3 separate regions of the Homo sapiens genome follow, and all the other regions are linked to region 3. Evidence: fine-mapped expression QTL. A gene starts in region 3. Each other region holds a variant in brackets. All regions are shown on one strand. Distances are from middle to middle.

Region 1 (8,189 bases), 160 kb after region 3:
GAAGTTAAGAGTGCTATAATAAGGGGAATAAATTTAGTAACCTAAATTAAACAGACTGTACAACTAAGTTTAATACCTAAATGCAAAACAGGCAACAAAAAGTATGCTTCACTTTAAGCAAACCCAACTTAAGATCTCTAGATTTATATAATTAATAAAATTAGAAAATTACAGAGCCTTTGTTCTACAAAATTATCACAGAATTTCTCTAACACACCTAGCTAAGATATTTGAAATTATACAACTCACAAAAGTTGACTTAAACTTAGGTTTTCAGAAGTACATCTTTGTACAAAATAAAAATATAGTCATCAATCACTTAAGGATGGGGATATGTTCTGAGAAATGAGCCATTAGGTGATTCTGTCATGGGATCATCACAGTGTACTTACACAAACCTAGATGGTACAGCCTACTACACACGTAGGCTAGATGATCTATACAGTCTATTGCTCCTAGGCTACAAACCCTTACAGCATGTTACTGTACCAAATACTGTAGGCAACTGTAACACAATGGTAAATATTTGTGTATCTAAACATAGAAAAAAAGTAAAAATACAGTATTTTAATATTGTGAGACCAATACTATGTATGACATCTGTTGTTGACTGAAAGGTTATGAGTGGCCAGCTATGCTGGCTCATGCAGGTAATCCCAGCACATTGGGAAGCCAAGCTGGGAAGATCACTTGAGCCCAGGAGTTGGAGACCAACCTGGGTAACATGGCAAGACCTCATCTCTACGAAAAAAAATAGCTGGACATGGTGGTGTGTGCCTGTAGTCCGAGCTATTCAGGAGGCTGAGGTGGGAGAATCACTTGAGCCGACAGGTTTAAGGTTACAGTGAGCTATGATCACACCACTGCATGTCGGCCTGGACAACCAAGCTAGACCCTGTCTCTAAAAACATAAAAATTAAATCGTTATGTGGCATGATTTTATTTCCTCCTGATAGTTTACGTAGAAGAACAAGAATAAGTGTGTACATTTTCATTTTAGGGGCTTTAGGAATTACAAACAGTATTAACTCTTCTCTGGGGAAGGAAACAATTACTGAGAGAAACAGGGAAGTGGTGTAAGTAGAAATCTGCTATGATATCTCTAGCTGGGGCAAAGAACTTCTAACCTCTCACTCCTAAGGAGTAAATATGGTAAGAAAAGGGGAGGAGCTTAAAAAGTAAGTAATACATTACCAGGGAACGAAACATCCTTATGGTTTGCAATTTGCCTTTTGATGGTCCACCATTTACTTCGTAGCCATTGTGGTGAACGGACACTACTCCATCCCTCAGCTAACAGATCCCAGTTAATGTCATTTTCATCAGCTACATCAAGTTCTGCTATCCTACAGTTACAAAATAAGCATCGTTAGACATTAAATTAATTTCTCTATAAGAACCCCTCCTCTGACTACAGGTAATTGCACTGGCAAATAAAGGGAATGGCAGGTTATGCCAATGAGATGCTATTGTTAAGTTACACGGGAAAGGATTCCAGGAGTGCAGATCTGCTTTCAGAGCTAACAGCTAAGAAATACCAACAGCAACCACTTTTAATTAAAGGTACAACCAATGGGCTAAACTATAAATGGTTAGAGCCAGATGAGGCACTGTGAAGGAAAAGGAGTATGCTAAAGGTTAGAATAAGAACAGATTTAGTTGTATATATGCAATGTTTCATAGTGTGGCATTTACTAAGTCATTTACTTCCTGGATCTGAGCGTTTCCATTGTTAAGCAAAAATATTTAGAAATGAGCTATTTATAAAGATGACTAGTTGAAAAAAAAATCCAAAACAAAATAACACAAAAGCAATAGCTGCAATCAAAAAACAACACAACAGTACAACAAAATTTGAGGTTTAAAAAAATCTGTTCGTTTTCTAGCTTTGTTGTGACAATTTGATTTTCGGTAGGGAGTAGCCATGGTGACAGTCTCTATTACTTCAGGGTCTTAAATAATTTCTTGCTAGTATTTTTGCCCATTTTAGTTAATAAATCTTAATGGTTAAACCAGCTACTTAAAAAAATAAGCTGGGATTATGATATCTTAAAGCTTTTTTGAATTTGTATGAAATGGATGTGTTTGATTTGGTCTACTTTGGAGGTGTGGAGGTAACTACAGACTGGGCCCCCTTCTTGGCAATCTTAGCACAGTAGCCAAGGATTGAAGGGCATGGAGACTGAACAGCCCTCTTATCCTAAACGTGTTCCCCCTAGGCTAGGACTGAGGCACATTGGTGGGACAGTGGAAAAGCTACACTGCCGCTGCCTGTGCCATACCTGTTCTGTGGATATAGAGAGGACTTCAGTCTCCACGCCTTCAATCTGGTACTTTGCATGAGCACTAAACCCACTAAAAAAAAAAAGGAACAAACACAACACAAAAAAAGAGCTCAATATGAAATACTTAAGATCTTAAACAGTAGTGCTCTATGGAAAGGATACTTTTCAGACACTAGGCATCCAGGAAAACCAAAAGAGGAAAGTCTATCAAGACATCCACAGAAATTAAGTTGCTTTTGTCATTACAAGATTCAGGACACAAACCTGAGGATGAGATTGATTTCATCTTCCTTGGTCCATTCAGTACCCCCACTCTGTTTCCAATTCAGGTAGTTGAGCCATTTAGAACGACATTGCTTTTCTGAGCGGGTACCGACTCGTTCAGCCACAGCTGCCCAAGACACACCCTGTGTGACTATGTCACCTGGCTCAGTGCTTGTCAACTCATGAACCACTTCTGCAAGTCTCTTTTCTTCTTCTTCTGTCCACTTCCCTGAAAAAAGGAAATCATCCAGACTACCACTGCTAACTTCTTTTACAAATCTGATTCAGCCCTCTATTTACAAGGACTGATAGGAAGTAAGCAATAGTACTAAGAGTTTGTTTCTGAATGACCCTCTGGTGGAAAACCATATATACCCACTAAGACAGTTTCATTTTACTAGCCCAGTAAGGGTCTCAGTAGAAAAGAAAATAAAGAATCCTAATGGAAAGCACTGACCAATTATGAAAAGAAAAACCACCCAAAACATAACTACAAAGAAGAATGTATTCTCAAGTTACACTAAGTCCTTTATAAACAGTGAAGTGGGAAGAGCTTCGTCAATGGCTGACAGACAAGAAATGGCATGCTTTTTTTCTTACTGTCACCTAAGATTCCCTGCTCTGCAAAAGTAAGTTCAAGAGGCCATTACTTATAGGAATGAATGATGAGGGACAAGGGAAATTACACCAATGGGCTCAACCTATTTTAGTAAAAACTAGGTTTCTACCATCTTGTTTCCTCACTATCCCAACTCCAAGCTACTGTGATGAAATATTAGTAAAGTCTGATACAAGTATTTACTTTTATTCCTGTGTTTTCTCAACCCATAAACCCACTAATAGATAACCCCAAATGTTCCTCTCTGTCTTTTTCTTATGGAGCTAGAGCAGAAAAACAGAAAGGGAAAAAAGCCATTTTTTTTCATCTTCTTTACCTCTGTTTCCATTTTGTTATTACTAGCTGAAAACCTCTAGAAAATTTCAAAAAGACTGTGCTTGCTTTGGGATTCCATTCATCTAGCAAATGTTTATTGAATTTTCATTATATGCCAAGCACAATTATGAATACTGTGGATGGATTCAAGACAAAGTTCTACTCTCCTATTCTAGCATGCTGTGAAAGGATGGGACTACTTTGAGACTGTGCTGTTTCATGGCATGGCCTCATCAGCAGCTGTATGTCACAACATGAGAAGGAAGCAGGCAGATCAATCAATCCCTCAGGTTGGCAATCAGGAAATGCCACTGTGTCCTTCCAAATTTTGTTACCAAAAGGGGTTCTGTACTCACAGCATCTTACATGAAACTCTGAGATCCTATCCTAAATCTAAAGCTTACAGCCCTGCTTCTTTCATTAAGCTGGCCATGTCACAGAATGACAAAGTTGGTAGAAGTTATGTTCTCACTGCCCTGCAGGTAACAGTGATAGTGCAGTAGTTAAGCAGGAAAGAATTCTGATTTCATTTTTAGAGCAGGGGGTTAAGGTCAAAATGTATATGCCCTGGAAGCTAAAGCTAAACTTCAGAAATTTTTTTTTTAATTGCAACAGTGGGCATGGATTGTGGATCCTTCAGAGAACATTATGGCTAAAAGGGCACTATGAGACCACCTACTCTAATCTCTTTACTTTACAGAAGGAAGTGAGGCTCAGAAAGGTTAAATGACAGTTAATAGCAGAGCCTAAATACGTTGTTGGTCGCAAAGATTAGGTTTAACAGTATGATCAGGACATCTGCATGCATTAAGAGGCATTTGTGGTCTTGCCAGGGGACTGAAACACCAATCATAAATTTTTTCTATGGAAAAATATACTTTGAGTTTAAAATAAGCAAAATATTTACAAATCTTTGGAACACAGCTTCTTCCTAATTTGGGACTTACCTGTGACTAAAGTTTTTCATAAACACTCACTGATTAGCTGTTGCTAATGTAAATTCAACAGTTAGATGGGCCTAAATTAAAATTACTTGCTGCATGTATGTCTTCAAAATACTTTCTCAACTGGGGAAGTATTGAAATTGTTACAAAACTGAAACATGTTAGATCTGAATCATCTTGACACTAAGGTGATGTTGTGTCCCTGAAGACAATGTTACCTTATACAAAAACAA[AG/G]TAAAAGATTAGTTTGATATATCTAATAAGCTCAAGGAAAAGGAAGACTAGAAAATAAAGTCTGAACTAAGGTGAATGATCTAAATCGCTCCCCAAGAGCAAAGAAAAGGCAGTATCCTAAGGGGCAGGAGGCTTAAGTGGTGACAAGAAAACGCTACCAGTAGTAGTCACAGTACCTGTGTTGCAAGTATCCTTCATCAGTCGGCACCGATCTTTGACAGAAGATGCACTTCTTCCTAGCGCCGCCCCTATTGTTGCCCAGTCATTGCCATGCTTTATCCGGAGCCTAAAACAAGAGTCTGCCAATCAGCATTTGGTTCAATTGTTTTCTCCCTTTTAATTTCATCATTTATTCTTCATTCTTCTTCTTCCCATTTGACTGGTTTGGAAGTTGTGGGCAGCAATACTTTGAGAGCCAAAGTTTGAAAGTGTGGCCTTTTTTTGGGGTCCACAGTTGTCTGTGGGTGAAAAAAAAACAGGCAGCAATTGCCTTTTTCCTGGGTCAGAGAAGAAATAAGTAACTTGGATATGTGTTCAAAAAAGACCAATTTCCCCTCAGGTTACTGACACAATCTCCCAGGCAAGCCCCAGACTTTCCCTTTTGAGCATATACCCAACAAACTCTTCTTTAGACATCTAAAGTTTCACAGGTCTTTATCATTATAAACAGAATCTACCTTCAAATTTTTTCATGATCCATACAATTCATTAAACCATACTTTAAGGTCTAACTCAATAAAGCAAAATTCTACTTCCTGAGATTCAATAGCCTTTGCAAGGTTGAGTCAGCCCAGATATTCACTGAAACATTTGCCAAGTCACCATTCTAAACCAAGCCATGTAGCACAACCCTGGTTTTCATCCTGGTATATAAATTCCCCAAATTTAGTCTTCAGGCTACCAAAAATGGCCCCTTAATCTTTTCTGGAACCCCTATTAGTGGTCTGAGGAAGCATCTGGTGAATGGCATCAGGAGACCAGATTATACATTATGAGAATGGTTATTTTGTGCAAGTAATGGATTTGATGTGATCTTTTTAAGGCCAATCATGCTTAATAGCACAATTCAATTATACCAGTCTGCCAAAAACCTCTTGAAATTTTCAAAGTAAAACTTTTAAGGACGTAAGACATAAAAAATTAGAATTAATGAAAAAAACTTTAAAACTTACTCCTTGAGCTTCTCAATTTCTTCAGGTGTATATCTAGAAATTCAGAGAAATTTTTAAAAAATCAATTAAAACAATGAATGCTAAAAACCTCAATAAAAATCAGAATTTCATTTAGGGAGCTGAATGTTAAGTCACTTAGCATATAATACTTTTAAAGTAACCCATTTTAAAGTGGATTAATAAAAGTTGAGAATAGGCAGGGTGCGGCTCACGCCTATAATCCCAGCACTTTGGGAGGCCAAGGCAGGCGGATCACTTGAGGCAAGGAGTTCGAGACCAGCCTGGCCAACATGGCAAAACCCCATCTCTACCAAAAACAGAAAAATTAGCTGGTGGCAGGCGCCTGTAATCCCAGCTACTAGAGTGGCTGAGGCAGGAGAATAGCTTGAACTCACGAGGCAGAGGTTGCAGTGAGCCAAGATCATGCCACTGTACTCCAGCCTGCGCAACACAGACTCTGTCTCAAAAAAAAAAAAAAAAAAAAAGTTGAAAATAAATGCTTCTATTTTTATTTTTTTTTAAACAGTAAATATTTTTTAGTTATAATAAAGGTAAGGATTGTATAATTTTCTCTAGAAAAAGAATCAACATTTAAAACATACATTTGCTCCTATGCTGTCTAACAGTTCCTTTATTTCAAACTTAGATTTTGGCACTCTCAAATCATAACTACTCCAAAAAAACTTATGGGTGACATTGTAAACTAGAGCTAAAAAGAAAATCTACAGAAAATTCCCTCAAAGCACTGAACAAATTAAGATTATCTTCATTTCCTTTACCCAGGTATGGACATCTGACATACTCTTGCTCTTTATTACAGTAGGCAAGTACTCAATACAGCCTATGTAATGTTCTTTTTAAAAATGTCCATTTAATAATTATGAAACGCTGCTCACTTTGTAACCATTTGTAATGCATGGAAAGTTTATGAATTGCTAACAAGTCATTTATGCTCCATTTAAAATTTTTTCTCTTTTTCCACTGTCACAAAAACATAATTTAATCCTCTTCAGCTTTCAAATGTACTTTCATTAGCAGGCTGCTGAAGAGCTAGAGAAAGAGCTCCAACATTAGCTCGGCAGTATCTAATAAGCCATACTACTGCCACCTAAAATTTCCAAAGAGAAATTAAAAATATGTCAGTAACAGTATATAATCATTGCATTTGAAGAATCTTAATGATGCCTTCCCATAAATGCTATCTAAAACAGAAATCCATACATTGTTTTCAGAAATGTAGTTCTTTTCCATTCTGGATTTAAAAAAAGGCCACTGACCTAGGAATGCTATATTCTAAAAATAAATAGGAAAAATGTTACCAATAAATTTCAAGTTATTTTCACACTTCTTAAATCTTTAATCATTACTGTATTTTTTATGTTACTTTACTACAAAGCAGACTTTGACATATTAAGTAAGCCAAGTCTTAAATCTAACCTATATAAAGTGAATTAGATCCTAATTTCTAAAAGAGGCTTTAATAATAAGGTTTCACCATATTCACAACATGGACCTGGAGGATAAAAATATTAACAACAATTAATACCTTGACCATATTTCTATTGTTTAAAAAAATGGACAGTTCCTCAAATATTTCCCCTAATTACATGAAAACATGCAGCATTACAAGTTCTCATACTTTCCCACATGGTTTCTGTCATCATACATGCGAAGCACTCTTCTATAAACTGCAAACAAAGGCCGGTTCAGACCCCATGCTATAGTCCTGTAGAAATCTTTTCTTTCGTCTTTTGACATCTCAAAGATGATTTCTGTAGCATCTTTTATTCCGCGTGCCTAAATGGGTTACATTTCTTTGATTTAGGGATTTCTGATAAAATGCATATGGATATACTATGCTTTTAAAATTTGTTTTAATGTTAAAGGTCATCAACGGCATTTAGAAAAATAATATATCACTAATTCATTAATAAATCAAATATAAACTTTTAAGATGATGCAAGAGATACAAAAGTGACACTTAAATGTTCCAAGAATAAACTATCAAATTCAATAAATTGAATTTCCATCAACTCTTTTAAAATTATAAAAAGTTAAAAATAGATCTAAAGAAAGCAGAAGGAAGAAAATCACAAGAGCAAAATCAATGGAATCCAGAATCAAAGCACAGAAAGGATAAACTAATCTAGAAATTGGTTCTTTGAAAACATCCATTAAGATTAATAAAACTTGAAATGATTAAAGTTCTGCCAAAATTTTAAAAAAAGACACAAACAGTATTAGAAATGGAAAAATGAGGCCTAAATAGAGACGCTGCAGAGATTAGACCATTAACAGAAATGAACAATTTTATGGTAATAAATTTAAATGTTGGTAAAATGAATCAATTCCTAGA
Region 2 (8,189 bases), 100 kb before region 3:
TGGGAGGGCTTATCTTCCCCTTTCTTGGCCCTTAATGTCCAGTACCTAAACCCTTGGGCTCTTTACTTGAGTAAAGTGAAAAGAATGCACTTAAGTGTGCAAAGAAAAGTGTTTTTTAAAGAGAAACTTAACAATAGCATCTTCTAGCTTTCATACATTTAAATTATTAACAGATTTTTAAAAACCTGGCAATGCCTATTAATAGTTTGATCTTTTAACATGTTTTATTTTATTTTTTAATTTAGTGAACTTTTCCTTGTCGCTGCTAAATCCAGGCAAAATTCTGGAAGAAGAAATGACTAGGTAACTCATATATATGGTCTACTTTTTTAAAGTTTCATTTGAAGATAATTTCCAATTACAGAGTTATAAGAATATACAAATAACGTGTACTCTTTACCCAGATTCACCTATTATTATCATTTTTGCTCCCAAATCCCAATTTAAAGTAAGATGCACACATCATGGCCCTTTACTGCAGTATGACTCCTAAGAATAAGGATATTTTCTTACATAATCACAGTACAGCTATTAGCTTCAGTAAATTTCAGTACTTTTATCTAATATAACATCTATATTCCAATTTTGTCATTTGATCCAATAATGTCATTTATGGCATTTTCTCCTCCTTCTAGTTTCTCAATAGAAATCTCTAAAGCCTGTAAGCATGATGTTTGTATGTCTGCATAGCAGTGTTGCTGATTGTAACGAGTGCTGTCTGTATGCTAAAAGGCCTGAAAGGTGTCTATCTGGAAGCAGTTTATAAAATTAGATAATAAAAATTTGAAAGTATTGATATGTACTTATTATTTTTTAAAATACTAACTTTCTACTAATTTGGTAAAACATTCCAAATTCGTTTGAATTCATGACATTTTATCATATCTTTTTTTAAAATATTTCAAATTCTGACAAATAGGAACAAAGTTTTTTGGTTCTTTTTATAAAGAATGTGGAAAAATCAATATGGAAAGGGCGATTTCACATGTTCAATCTGCTTATTACTATATTTGCAATATGTAAATAGTAGTGAACTTTTCAGTACAATAAGATATACAAGTCTAGAATATAATTATTAAAGAGGAGTTAAATTGTATCCACAAGTTATCAATATCAGTTAAAAACAAATCATTAACTTTTTTGCAGTTAACAACAAAAATTTATCCATTTTCTTTGGCTAACAGTTCAAGTAAATAGATTTGCCATCATGGAGCTCATCACTTTATAATTTAAAAAAAGAAAAATGTAATGTCTGTTTGTTATAATGTCCTATACAGTTTTTGTTTTAAGTTTAGTAAATTGATTAATTTCCAGTTCTGAAAATTTCTCCTGAAAGAGATGAATAAAGGATGGTAGGGTGGGGGTGGTGGCTCATGCTATAATCCCAGCACTTTGGGAGGCGGAGGTGAGCAGATCACTTGAGGTCAGGAGTTCGAGACCAGCCTGGCCAACATGGTGAAACCCCATCTCCACTAAAAATACAAAAATTAGCCAGGTATGGTGGTGCATGCCTGTAATCCCAGCTACTCGGGAGGCTGAGGCAGGAGAATCACTTGAATCCAGGAGGCGGAGGTTGCAGTGAGCTGAGATGGTGCCACTGCACTCCAGCCTGGGTGACAGAGTGAGACTCAGTTTCAGAAAAGAAAAGAAAAGAAAAAAGAAAAGAGAAGGTATTTAATAGAGCCTTTCTCTTTTTTTTCAGATATGCATATTACTACTCAGGATTGGGTGCTGGAGTTCTTGTTGCTGCCTATATACAAGTTTCATTTTGGACTTTGGCAGCTGGTCGACAGATCAGGAAAATTAGGCAGAAGTTTTTTCATGCTATTCTACGACAGGAAATAGGATGGTTTGACATCAACGACACCACTGAACTCAATACGCGGCTAACAGAGTAGGTACATTGTTAATGTCACACTTTCATATAGAAATTAATTACTGTGTGAAAATATGTCAAGGAAAGATTTTAAATGAAAAATGTTACTAGATTGAGCATCTGATCTATATTAGAAATCGATCATCTGGCAGCCATGTCTAGCAGCATCTATAGCCTATGCCATTGCATGTTGGCTTTCCCCCAAGGTGCATAGTAGGTTTATTTGAGGACTGAATTCACATCTTATACCTGTTTATTTCTCATGGAACTTTCTACTGCAGGACGTGACAGGTGCTAGACTGTCAGTAAAGATGGTTGAATCAATGAATAGATGATTGAATTAATTTACAAAGAGACTTGCTTTAGTAATTGTCAACTCTTCACTTATTCAACAAATATTTGAGGGTGTTTCATGTGCGAAGTACCATTCTGTGTGTTCGTAATATATCAGTGAACAAAGCACAGATCTCTGTCCTTTTGGTGCTTACATTCCAGTAGAGGGAGATAGATGATAAACTTTCCTGACTGGGAGTCCTGGCAAAGGCATCCTGAGCAAATAAGTCAAAAAAAAAAAAAAAAAAAAGGGAAAAGCAAGACATTTAGGGCCTTGTAAACCTCCACAAAGACTTCAAGACTTCAGCTTTCACCCAGTGAAATGGCAGCCGCTGGAAGTTTCTGAGCTGAGGAGTAGCATGGTCAGACTTGCATTTTCAAAGCATCCCACTGGCTGCTGTGTTGAGAATAGACTTGGTTGGGAATAGGGACAAGAGTAGAAGCAAAGATCTCTTCCCTATTACTTCCCTATAAGAAGAAATGCAGTAATACTTCCCTACTACTGTTGCTTATTATTGTTGCAATGTTCTTCTTAATTCTTGCTTTTAAACAGATACATTTTTATGCTCAAAATGTTAATGCTTCTCTCATAGGATTGACTCATTTAATAGTATCAACTTAATGATACTAACTTATTAGAAGCATTGATCAATCCTGAATTTCTTCCTTTGTGCGGTGTTTAGGTGGGGAAGATGTTATTCAAGAGGCTAAGACTCTGAAAGAGGCTTGCAGTCAGTGAACAAATTTTACTTGTCTATGTGTTTGTTGGATGTCTACTTCATCTTTCTAACTGAAACCTCCTGCCTGTAACCACTTAGGTGTGATCTTTTTTAGTGACATCTCCAAAATCAGTGAAGGAATTGGTGACAAGGTTGGAATGTTCTTTCAAGCAGTAGCCACGTTTTTTGCAGGATTCATAGTGGGATTCATCAGAGGATGGAAGCTCACCCTTGTGATAATGGCCATCAGCCCTATTCTAGGACTCTCTGCAGCCGTTTGGGCAAAGGTATGTGAAAGCTGGGCCTTTTTATGTGTGTTAACCCCTGCACACAGTAATCTTTAATATGCAGAAGTCTCGTACTTGTACCTGTTCAGGTCTACATTAAATGTCAGTTGAAACTACATCCAGTAACATGGTGTTAATATGATGCTTTCATAAGGAAATTAATTTTTAACATAATTCAAAATGTCACAGGCTGGGTGTGGTGACTCATTCCTGTATCCCAGCACTTTGGGAGGCCAAGGTACATAAATCACTTGAGGTCAGGAGTTCCAGACCAGCCTGGACAACATGGCAAAACTCTGTCTCTACTAAAAATATGAAAAACTAGCCTTGCGTGGTGGTGCATGACTGTAATCCCAGCTACTTGGGAGGCTGAGACAGGAGAATCGCTGAACTCAGGAGGTGGAGGTCGCAGTGAGCCCAGATCATGCCACTTCACTCCAGCTTGGGTGACAGAGTAAGACTTCATCTCAAAAAAAAAAAAAATTCACAGTTCTTACTTCGATTACCCTTAGTTAAGGAAGTGCAACTTTAAAATATAACATTTCCCTCAAATTATTGCATGAACATAAAAATTTTAAATAGAGTTTGTATTTGTTCTATTTGTTTTAATCATTACCTGTGATGGTTAAGTGGCACTCTGCCAGTTTTGCCTGGCAATAAAATACACAAAATGTATTCTACTTTAGCCAACACTTCAGAGTTGAGAAATTTTACTGGCAATTTTTGCTCATCCTGACGTTGATGATTT[A/G]CACAGTGAACTACCTGTATCTCTTTTGTTTTGATTCTTCCTTTGCTTTTCTCCTGAAACATCTTGTTTGGCTATCTTATTATTCAGCAGAATGCCCATGAGGAGGTCTGGAAGTATTGTTTTTATAGTAATTAAAAATTGTGACACAAGTCCAAAGTGGGTGGATCACGAGGTCAGGAGATTGAGACCATCCTGGCTAACACAGTGAAACCCTGTCTCTACTAAAAATACAAATAATTAGCCAGGCGTGGTGGTGTGCACTTGTAGTCCCAGCTACTCGGGAGGCTGAGGCAGAAGAATCACTTGAAACTGGGAGGCAGAGGTTACAGTGAGCCGAGATCGTGCCACTGCACTCCAGTCTGGGCAACAGAGTGAGACCCCGTCTCAAAAAAAAAAAAAAAAAAAATTGTGACACAATAAAGTTAAGAATGGTAAATTCTTTCAAAGCAGTAAAGTTTTATTTTATTTTACCTTACAACTAACAAAGAAAAACAGTAGATGTGGAACTTGACAGTGTTCCCAAGAGTGCTATTTAGAGAATTATGTGTGGATTTTCTTTTTTCCTGAGTACTCTTGGGGAGCCTATCACCAGGGTGGGTCAGATATAGCCTTTGAGGGATGTGGACGCAGCCATTGGATCCAGAACACTGGCATTTGCTACATGACTTTAATATTTGTTAAAGGAGAGGGTTTGGGAAGAAAAAGTAGGTTAAAGGGTTGACCAGAGTGCCTTTAAACTTTTCTCCCTATACAAAAGTGATCACTGTTTCTTTTCTGTCCAGATACTCTCGGCATTTAGTGACAAAGAACTAGCTGCTTATGCAAAAGCAGGCGCCGTGGCAGAAGAGGCTCTGGGGGCCATCAGGACTGTGATAGCTTTCGGGGGCCAGAACAAAGAGCTGGAAAGGTCAGGAAGGTTCTTTAGCCACTGGTTTAAGGAATGTGTTTTTACATTTTGTTGCTTCTTCTTTGTGGTATGTGTTTTTTACCTTCCCTTTCCTAATATTAACCCTTCTCGCATAAATTATAAGCACCCTTTACTGATGGCTATAGTTGAATGTCAGACTCTAAAGCAAGATTCTTAATCATTTATGTTCCATGGACTCTTTTGGCTATGTGATAATACAAATGGACTCCCTTGTTTTTAAATGCATAAACCAAAATATGCTAGCCCTTTGGGAAGCCAAGGCAGGAGGGTAGCTGGAATCCAGGAGCTCAAGACCAGCCTGGGCAATGTAGTAAGACCCTGGCTCTACAATTTTTTTTTTTTTTAATAAGCTGAGTGTGGTGGTGTGCACCTGTGGTCCCAGCTACTCAGGAGGCTGAGGCAGGAGAATCCCTTGAGCCCAGAATGTCAAGGGTGCAGTGAGCTGAACTCCAGCCTGGATGATAGAGTGAGCCTCTATCACAAAAAAAGAGTAAAAATTTTTTAAAAACCAAAAAATAAATAAATAAAAGCCCCAAAAAACAAAATAAGTAGGGTTACAAAGGAAAATAATTATATTAAAAATACTTATCAAAATATTTTTTATTTTATTTTACTCCTTAATGACTATGAACTGGAATATAGAAGAGAAAAACCTGAGAAAACATCGACTTCCTAGTTATAGCCCAGAATTCTTTGTAGGGCCTTGTGGGTCCTCCATAACAATGAGGCAGGGCTTCCCACCCAGGCCTCTGGCATTCAACTTTAATGATCCAGGATAAGCCTGGAAAATTGACCAGTATCTGGAGGCATGTTGCAAACTCTTCTCTGAAAAAATTATCAAGGCATGATTGACATATGAAAAGCTGTGTATACATCTTTAGTGTGTATATCTCAATGAGTTTGGGGATAAGAATACACCTATGAAAAAGGCTATTCTGCTCTACTTAAATGAAAATAATTACTTAGGGTTTTATTTAAATAACAATATCCCCTACTGTAGTTGAAGTATGATTCCATATAAAGTATTTTCTTTGGCTATTCTATGGGACTCTTGATACTCACAACTCTTGGATATAAAAATTCTCTGGAAATTCTCTAGCATTAAAAACAAAGTTTCCCTTATTCCCCCCATTTAATTTTCTACTTTTCTATTCCTTAATCCCTCTTCAAAGCCAACATGTTTCTGATCCTCTAACCTCTTCCTTTTTTCTCTCTCACTGCTGCTTCCTGTACATAATAGTCCACACAGACCACACTAACCCTCAGTTGGACCTCAGGATGTCAGTGTAATCTGTGCCGCTCCATTAGCCCCGGTAAGCGAGCCACCTAAGCAAAGGTAATTACAGTGTGTCCGCTGCTGTCACTGGAGCTGTGTGTCACACTGGGCAGATGCAAGTCTTCCTGCCACGCCTTGAGGCTCAGCCACACAGGAGAAATCACAGCGCTAGCTGTGGCCTGCTGGCTACCCCCAGAGATGCAGCTGTGCTCTATGAATGCAGCCCCCAACCAGAGGAAAGCACCCTGAAGACCTGGGTGCTTTACGCAATAAAAAAGACAAACCTTCTGATGGCAGAATATGTTTTTTAAAAGACTAATGAATTCTCATGTTTTATTTGGTTCAACACTAAAACTGGTGTTGCTGTGTTTTGTTTTTTGTTTTTTTTTGTCACAAAGAAAAATATCCTAGTTTGTGTGATATTTTCCCCTCGAAGTGTCATTGCATACCCATTGGATTTTTCTTTAAATTTCAGGGAGCCCAAATTAAATTTTACATACCCTCTGGGTCTAGTATGAAAAAGTAGATTTGATTTAACTTGATGAAAAAAAATTGTAATTTAACAGAATCATTCTAGATATTTTAAACTTTATATCAAATGCCAGCAGCCAGTAATAATGCATTTGAATTATGATTCAAAGATATGATAGTAATAGAATGAGCAAAACTCAGGAAGAGATAAAAGTTGAACACAATGATACTAATATAATAGTAAGAGAAATGATCAGGCTTGCTAACTATGAACCAGCTACTGTACTACTTTCTACAATTATCTACCAACCTCACAATTATCTTGCAAATTAGGCATTATTAAATCCATTTTTCATATATGAAACTAAAGTCTGGAAAAATTGAATAAGAACTCATATTCCATAAGTAGTGACTACCTTATAACCTGTATCTAGCTTGACAGATGAAGGTCAGCCTGATTTTTAAAAAAGTCAAAGAGAGAAGCCTATGTTTATGTACAACAACATGTAAAATTTTCATCCCTCACCCAGTGGACAATAGAGGGACGATTTTCTTTTCTCCAGAGAAGAGACATTGACCAGAGTTAAGAATCTAACTGTTTATGAGTTCCAGTGACATTTACAATCAATTCTGGTTTGGCTTGGTTTCTCTCATTCCCTCTTAACCCTGACTTGTGATATTGCCGTGAAGGTGATGGAGAAGCTCTTCCATATCCCAGGGTGAGCCCTCAATTCTGGAATAACCACAGGAATGTTGGTTGGCTTGGAATGGATGAAGGGAAATGGAACCGGGCCAGTAAAGAGAAGGCTTGGATCTGTTCTAGGCCTGGCTGATCCTGAATTAGTTCAATTCCCAAAGATCTGGGTCTCACCATGGGTTCATTACCTTGACTGACTTTGTTACTTAAACCTCCAACTATATAGGAGCCGAGTGTGACTCGGACTATGGATTGTTATTCTTAATTATAATGTTTTCCCTCTCATTTTTCTGGTAGGTATCAGAAACATTTAGAAAATGCCAAAGAGATTGGAATTAAAAAAGCTATTTCAGCAAACATTTCCATGGGTATTGCCTTCCTGTTAATATATGCATCATATGCACTGGCCTTCTGGTATGGATCCACTCTAGTCATATCAAAAGAATATACTATTGGAAATGCAATGACAGTAAGTAGTTCTCCTAACATTTATGAAGAATATGAAAATCTTATTTCTCCATCTACCTTCTCTTTTCTTTGATATCGCTCCTTTTTGAAAGATGAACATGATTATAGGTTTTTGTTTTTGGTGAATCTTTCCACTGTCCAGTGGGCAGAGCTGACTTTCTAGTATATACAAGTCATAATTATGAGTGTGGATAAGAAAATAGCATGTGGTTAGACCATTTGTGAAACATATACAATGTATAAAAGGAAATAAAAATGGGATGAATTTAGGAATAAACAAATATGGATGGGAGCCATCCTCCCTCTGCCGTTGAGTTTTATTGTATAAGAAAGTAAGCATCATTATTACAGAATAGGTCATTGCACAAGAAAATGTTACATTTATA
Region 3 (8,189 bases):
TCTGACAGGAGAAACTTCCCAAATAAGACCAGTGGGCTTGCAAAACCATATGGCTTTATACATTCTTTAACTGCAGCCAAGGGAGGAACTTGTGTCTTGAACAAAACTGAATATTATGTTCCTGATTACTGCCATAATATATCCCAGGACATGAGTTCTCTAGAAACTTGTATTTTGGCTATGGATTCCCGGTCTTATGACCCCATAACAGCATAGTTTCATGAGCTTTCCAGCACTTGGAAAGCATTTCTTTTCAGTATGCTTGGTATTATAATATTCATTGTTATTAGTTATTGTGCTTTTATTTCTGTTGTGTTTATTGTATAGGGTTGCAAGATAAAATAGTTTAGCAGCTGTTTCACCTTTCTATTTACTAACCTAGTATATTAACTTTCTAGAAACAATTGGGATATCATGCAAGCAAGGAGCTCCCTTACTCCCTGAAGAGGCTCACTGCACACTATTATGAGAAGACCCTGTCCCAACCATCAACATCTACTGCCTCCAGGAAGGAGTTACAAAAGAACAACCTTCACCCTTTATCTCCCCTTAAGGTTAAGGGTTCTCTCATAAGTAGAGGGGGAAATGTTGGGGAAGCAGGAGCTCAGGAGAGCCAGAGTAACACCATTTTAAATTCAGCTCCATCTTGAGACTAGCAAGGCACGTTCCTTGCCAGTCATGACCCAGTCATAAGATATTTACAGTTGAGGAAACAACCTAAAGATACTTACAATGACACACTCCTACAACAGTAGAAAGTCCAGATGTCTCAATACCCATAACAATATATGTTTTTGAGATGATTAACATAATTCTTTGATGTATTCATGCACTAAAATGTCAAGGATTGTTTTCTTTAAATCAACAGAATAATAAATTTTGTCATGCTGTCTGCTCACCCTCACATAGGCACAGCTTAGTCTTTACATCGATAAGACCCCTATGTAAGAAAAACTTAAAGACAGTCTGCTTGCTTTCTGAGGATGTCCTACTCTATAATGGAGAAGCTTTCAATAAACTGTCTCTTCTCACTGCACTCTGCAACTCACCTTGAATTCCTTCCTGCAAGAGATCCAAGAACTCTAACTCTCTCTTAGAGTCTGGATCGAGACCCCTTCTCCAGCAACAGTATCACAGTTTTCTAAGTTACTAATAATATTAATATATACTAAAAGATTATTAACATACCTGATTCAAGGTATTTTTTTAATGATTCTTCAAGTGAAGGAACAGGCAGTGATGGAAGAGAATCCTGGTACTGAAATGTTCGTTCTTCAGTTGATTTAGCCAATTGATTTTCCATGATAAAATCACAATAGGAAACCTAAAGAAAAGAGAGAGAGCCCTCACAACTTCAATCTCATAGATAGTGTTACGTATCCTAGGTACAATTCACAATTCACTAAACCAGTATTTAGGGACCACAGCATATCTAGGACTTGGTACCAGCTTTTATGAAATTTATAAATCTGTCAGATAGAGAAAACCAACTTAAAAAGAATGTGTAGACACAAAGTGCTAGAAGTAAAGAGTGATCAGTGGGACTGGTATAATTAGTTACCATTTATTGAACACCTAGCATTTGCCAGGTACTCCAGTTTGCATTACAGAAAACATGTGTTAGCTCTCTAACTTTTATGTTATCTCTGAAAGGTGGCATTCTTTGCAATTTTACATATGAATATATCAAAACTCAGAAATTTAGTAACTTACCTAATGTCAAACACAGGACCCAAACCCAGATCTGTTAAGACTACAATCTTTCCCCTATACAAAACAACATGATAGAAGGTAAGGGAACCTGCAGTAAATCTTAGTGGGTAGATAGTATTTGATGTATAGAAAAGGATTATGTGTTGATATTGCATTGATATAGAAAACTTTGGAGCACAAAGTACAAAGAGGTGTGGAAGTGTCCAACTGTAGAATTAAAGATTATTATAGAATACATAAATCATATGACAAGCTGCTTTAATTGCACAGGTCGTATGAGGTCTACACAGAATGGTCTCAAGTGTTCCAAAGCAATCTTGAACATATTGACACGTGTATTAATTGCTATCAAAGAAATCTAACTCAAAATGTGAATAAGGTATACAAATGCTAAATAAAAAATGAGGTTTCTCAAAGCCTTTGTAAATTATCATATATTAATTATATTAAATAATGTAATATATTAAATGTAATTATATGTTAAAATAGCAACTGAGAAATCAAAGAACGTTAATATTGAATTTGAACTTCCTATTCTCTCAAAAACTATTTTTTAAAACTGATAGCAACGCTAAACAAAGTATTCCACTCATAGGTTACAGAATCGAACACTATCAAAAACATGGACACAGAAGAGACTATTTTCAGCTAATACCTGTTTTCCTCTGCTTTAACAGAATCCTGAGTTGTAGCTGTGCATACAGCCCCCAGTTTTATCTTTCCTACCCTCTCTTGGAGCTCAGTGTGGCTTTGTGATGACCTTGTGTGTGTCACTTCCAGGTCATGCTCCCAAAAAGGAATGCATGTGTTCTCCCTGCACTTTCCCTCCTTTTTACTACCTGCTAGGTAGTGACGAACTAAACAGCACCATGGCCTCATTTATGGAAGTCATATATGCAGGATTGCAGAATCTCCCTACTAGTCCTGGACTCCTACCTCTAGATGTATGGAAAAAAAAAAACTTCTATTTTATTCATACCATTGTATTTTGGGCTTTCTATTGTAGGGAGAAGAGCTTAGCCTGTACCACTAATATAAAGAGATAATTTGAAAATGAGAAATAATAATTAACTCAAAGTTCTTTAGCTTCTTTCTATCTATTGACTTTGGCTGCACACCATTTTGACCATCCATAAAAATGGGTTTGTACCTAATGGAAATGTAGATCTGGATCCAAGTACAGACTCTGCCACTTTCTAGCCATGTGCCCCTAGGGCAACCAACTTTAAGTGAATTTCCTTATCTTAGAGTGGTTAATCATACAATTCAATAAAGTCAGAATTTGTTTTCAATGCCTGTGAAAGCACATTATAAAAACAAAATAATCCTGCCTGAAACCACCATATTGTGGTAGGCACAATTACTATGAATGGCCCCCAAGATTCCACCCCTGCTAATCCCCAGAACCTGCGAATATGGTGAGATCATTACTCCTGTGATTGTGATATTCTCTACAGAACTGACCTTAAAATAGGGATATTATCGAATTGGAACTAATCTAATCACTTGAGTCCATAAGAGCAAAGAGCTTTCTCTGGCCAGTGGCAGACAAGTAAGACTGCTTTAATGCTTGAGAAGGATTTGTGGTGTCTTTGAAGATGCAGATGGCCTTAAAGAACTGAAAGAGGCTCAGGCTGACAAACAGTAAGGATATAGAAATGTCAGTGTGAATTCTACCAACAATCTGAAATAGCCTGGAGGTGGATTCTCCCCTAGAGCCTCCAGAAAAGAATCCAAATCTACAGAAACCTTGGTTTCGGTTTTGTGAAATTCTAAGCCAAGTACTCAGCTAAGCCCACCCAAACTTCACATTTACAGAAGCTATGAGATAATACATTTGTGTTGTTTTAATTGTTGCATTTGTGTAATTGGTTAAGGCAGCAATAGAAGACTAGTACACACATACAGAGAAGATAAGCTATTCTGTTTACCTCTGTGCCACTTAATAGACTCTAGAAAACTGGAAGCAAGAGTATTAGTTACATACCCACTATAGTGCTTAACCCACCAACCGGTACACATTAAAAATATAAATTATTGGATTCTTTCTTGAAGAGTTTTCTTGAATTCTCAACCACAAAGATTAAGTTAAATAAGATGGTTCCAATAGCACTAAGAAAATGATTATGCTAGATTTAATTAGAATTGACTTTCTGGGGGCAATTAGATATGAATTCACAGAAAGTGGAAAAGAACCACGAACAATACGTGAAGGAATTGTCACATACCAGTACACCAAGAAGATGAACTGCTTGAGACTGCCAGGAGCCTGCTGCAACAATTGTTTTGAGATCACAGGGAACTGGACTAAGTCGGTGACTGTGGGAAGAAAGAAACAAGCTTAACAAATATTTAAGAGGGAAAAAGAAATGAACAAGCTAGTGAAAGAAGGTGGAATGCAGACAAACTAGGAGTTGGGAGTTCCCAAGACAAACTTTTCGTGAATCACTGCAAACACACGCAAATAGTCCACCTGCTAGAGAGCAGGAGTAAATGATCATACAATTAAGTAGGTTTCAGACAAGTACACCTTCCATTAGACGGGTTCAAAGGGTAGAGGATACGTTTTCAGTGGCTGGGTAACAGGTTCGTCGCAGAGTGGCAAGGGGTAGAAGCAGGAGCAGAGGGCAATGAGAGCTCGGAGGCTCTTCCCACCAACCCAAGAGCAACTCTGCACTCAAGAGGCCATCAAGTGAGAGAAATCTAAGCACTACAACGGAGCAGCCCCGCGGCCCAACCTTGAGGGTACCCCTGAGACCCCAGCAGGCGAGATGCTTGATGACACTACTCCCCCACCAAATCCAGGCACCTTTGCGGTTCTGCACGACTTAACTTTCCCCCGCCCCCGAGTTGAAGGATTAGGGGAGGGAGGGAATGCTGCTTCAACGGACCTGTCCGTCCTCACCGCCCGCGCCTCGCCGCCTCTGCCGCAGCCTCAGCCTGCAGCAGCACCGGCTCGCTCCCCCTTGGGCCTCAAAGGTGCGGGAATTGGACTGAAGGCCGCTAGGGTCCCGCCCCGCATTCGCCGGGGAACAGGATTGGATAGAAAGCCGCGAGGGTCCCGCCCCTCACTTTCCGGGGAACGGGACTGGACGGACAGCTGCAAGGGTCCCGCCCCGTGCCTGACGTCGGGGGCGAGCCGGGCCTGCGCGGTAGTGGGACCCGACCCTGTCTCCAGTGGGCGTCTTGGGCCCCGGCTCTATTCTGGGCTGCGGGCCTGGGAAGGGCTCGCCGGGTGCCAAATGAGCTGTCCTAACTCTGCGGGGCTGCAGCTTCCTGCATGATGCTGGGGAGCTTGGCGCCTGACCCAGGATCTAGAAGGCACTCTGGGCAGGCCGCGCTCCGCCCACGAAGGTACCCAACCCTCTGGGATAGATGCAGGAAGCGATGGTTAAGACCCATTTTCACCCAACTTCTCGCCGCAGGTCTGGCTTACCACACGCTCCTCCCCATTCCCAGTGAGCCGCTTTTTGCAGCACCAGGCGAACACTTACACCAGTGCTTTGTAAAGGAATCTTATTGTCCACCCCGTGTCTTGGCAAAAGAACAGTGATCACACAGATTCCTACTTGGGCTCTTTCCTTTAATCTTCGGAGGCTGAGTTTGCCCAACTCAGGTATGCCGCAGCACACTACATCATCTCGGGTCTCCTTGCTCTTCTGCAGCTCTTCATTGCTACCCAAGTTATTTGAATACCCCAGGGATGCTTACCCCCGGGCCTATCTGATGTCTTTTACTGTTGTGCCAAGAAATGGAATCTTTAACCAGAGTGGAGCTACCCAAGTTCTAGAAGATCATAATGTGATTGACTTAGTTTCACAGATTAATTCATTTTGCTTTTACCTTCTGAAATAAAATATACTGTTTCATTTTTAATTTTAAATACACTGTTTCATTTTTTTGTGGAAGGAAAGACCAAATGTTTACACTGACTCTGAACTAGTTATCAAAGATAAAGATTTAGATTTCAAATTAACATGTCATGACAGGCCCCATTCCTTTGTCTGTCGTTTCTAACTCCTTTAGCAGTAAAGTTTGACCTGAAGGGAAGTGAGGCTATGTGTAACTGAATGTTCCCTTTGTGTAAATATTCATAAGTTTTCTACAGAAATATTGTGTTTGATTACAGTACAGCTTGCTGGAAGTGTTTCATAATATATGGCAGACGTACTATTCTAAGAAAAGTTCTGAATTTTGAAACATATCTAGCCAAAAAGATTTTAAATAAGGGATTAGGAATTTGTAGTTGTAATTTCTGAAGGTGTGATAAAGAACTTTTTCTTTCATATATAAGTGCGATGCTCTGGATGATGTTAAAGTTTGCTTACAAGATAAAGTTTTTAAATTGAGTAACTAAAAACTACTCAGAAACCTTCGTTGTATTTTTTTTCTCCTTTTTAGTGAGTCTTGGCATCTCTTTAAAAGTTTATGCATGTTTAATGCCTGTTGGTGCATAGAATTTAGAACCATTTCGCTTCACTCTTTTTCCTACTCTTGTTGTTTATTTCAATGGAAACAAGATGTTTCTGTAAAGATTCCTGAATTATCGGATAGACAAAAAGGTGTGGGAGTGAAAAAATGAATGGAACACAGATTTGAGTATGTAGAAAAAAATCTTTTAAAATATGTTATACTGATAAGCATATGTACCCCAAATCACCAAAAACAGGTATTTTAAAATATGTTTGGCTTCAAAATGTGTGATATATATTTTAATGAAAGATTCCAAATTATGTTGCATTCAGGTTAAACTTGAACGAGTTTGCATTTCTTAGAGTGGAGCGGGAGATATTGGCTGGTAAGGAAGATGTTTTAGGCACTTGAAGTATTTGTGATAGCAAGAAGTTGTTCCAAGATTAAAAATTGACTATGAGTCAAAGTAACTTTTTGGAGGAAAATTTGTAAGTAGTACAAGTGGTGATAATTTTTTAAGTTGCCATTAAAAAAATCTTTTATTTTTGTTCTTCTGTAGTTCTTACTCAGCATACCACAAATTGCAAAAGACTTTATAGATAAGTCTAGATAAATTTCACCATTAAAAAGTATTAAAATGCTAGACTAAGAAGTTCATGTTTCAATCTGCATAACTGGCTTCCTGCTAAGATTTGTGACTCTAATAAGTAAGGAGATATGGTAAATAGCCCTAATCTATGGGAGACCTGTAACCTCCTTTCATTCTGATGTATAAAATGAACATGTTGAAGAAATAATTTTGTGATGTTTCTTCTTTTTAATGGGGGGGCAGTAGAAATATGGTCATTTTGGGAAGCAGCCAACAGCAAATTAAAGTACACTGGACGCAAAGAGGGCAATGTAGCATTAAAAATGAACTCCACTGCCAACAGCAGATGAACAGTGTTTGATACAAAAGGTCTCTTTTTAGTACTAATCATTGATTTGGGGTTGCTTTTGATGATATTTACAGTACATGAAAAGTTGCCACCAAAATCTGAGGGGAAGAGTTAAGATAACTATGATGTTTTTGCATCTCAGAAAAAAATACCTTCTTACTAAACAAAATATAACATTTAAAAATTTTGTTAACATCTTTGTTGAAATATAATTTACATACCATAAAGTTCGGCCATTTAAAGTCCACAAATCAATGGTTTTACTATATTCACAGGGTTATGCAGTCACCATAAGCTAATTTTAGAACATTTGGTTCAAATATTTAAAAAGATTATTTTCTACATACTCAAATCTCTGTTCCACTCATTTTTTTCAGTCCCACAACTTTTTCTATATCCAAAAATCCAGGCATCTTTACAGGAACATTTTGTTTCCATTGAAATAAATAACAAGACTGGGAAAAGAGTGAAGCAAAGTGGCTCTAAATTCTGTGTTACCAACAGGCATTAAACATGATTCATCAACTGACTGATGAATGTATGAACCACTTTTTGTTTGTCCATTCATCAGTTCATGGACATTTGGGTTGTTTCTACCTTTTGTCTATTTAAATAATGGTACTATAAACATTTGTGTACAAGCTTTGTGTGAACAGGCTTTCAATTAGTATTTTAGGAGTGGAGTTGTGGGGTCGTATGTTAACTCTATGTTTAACATTTTCAAAAACCGTCAAACTGATTTCCAAAGGAACTGTACCGTTTTTACATATCTGCCAGCAATATGAGTTTCAATTTCTCTGTGCCTTTAGTTACAATAACAATATAACAGCCCTTGCTATTGTCTTTTAAAAAAAATACAGCCACTCTAATGAATGTGAAGTGGTGTCTTGTGGTTTTGATTTACATTTTTTTGTGAAGACTAAGAGTGTTGAGTATTTTTTCATGTGCTTATTGGCCATTTATATATCCTCTTTGGAGAAATGTTTATTAAGATCCTTTTCCCATTTTTTAATTAATGCACACATTTTAAAATTATATTAAAATTAGGCAATGGTCTGACCATAAAAAGGCTGCTTATGGAATACTGTTATGTTAAACTTCACTTACAGGATGCTAAATCCTTAG

Alleles and levels. Positions count from the first base shown, and alleles are read on the strand shown. Sizes are in standard deviations (SD) of each study's normalised expression. Not every link is listed here.
As copies of A replace G in region 2, the expression in unexposed skin of the gene that starts at base 4,880 in region 3 goes up (large effect, 1.2 SD a copy in GTEx).

The links. PIP is the estimated chance that this variant, and not a neighbour inherited with it, causes the effect.
Region 1: its variant is fine-mapped to the expression of TP53TG1 in whole blood (INTERVAL, PIP 0.99).
Region 2: its variant is fine-mapped to the expression of TP53TG1 in unexposed skin (GTEx, PIP 0.94).

Annotation. Positions count from the first base shown.
Region 1 is chr7:87,178,986-87,187,174 of GRCh38, reverse strand. DMTF1 (cyclin D binding myb like transcription factor 1) reads right to left here. Exons shown (of 18, transcript NM_001142327.2): 8 at 7,473-7,630; 9 at 5,834-5,866; 10 at 4,838-4,947; 11 at 2,550-2,778; 12 at 1,195-1,346. Among named protein-coding and RNA genes, the nearest start is that of DMTF1-AS1, 31 kb to the right of the region's middle. The variant AG/G (reference allele first, on the strand shown) is at 4,661.
Region 2 is chr7:87,446,649-87,454,837 of GRCh38, reverse strand. It overlaps ABCB4 (ATP binding cassette subfamily B member 4), which reads left to right. Exons shown (of 28, transcript NM_000443.4): 5 at 246-303; 6 at 1,703-1,894; 7 at 3,044-3,215; 8 at 4,746-4,870; 9 at 7,633-7,804. Among named protein-coding and RNA genes, the nearest start is that of ABCB4, 25 kb to the left of the region's middle. The variant A/G (reference allele first, on the strand shown) is at 3,964.
Region 3 is chr7:87,342,183-87,350,371 of GRCh38, reverse strand. TP53TG1 (TP53 target 1) reads left to right here and starts at 4,880. Exons shown (of 3, transcript NR_015381.1): 1 at 4,880-5,329. CROT (carnitine O-octanoyltransferase) reads right to left here and starts at 4,708. Exons shown (of 18, transcript NM_021151.4): 1 at 4,605-4,708; 2 at 3,942-4,032; 3 at 1,189-1,324. The coding sequence starts at 1,303. RefSeq lists a silencer at 4,683-4,892.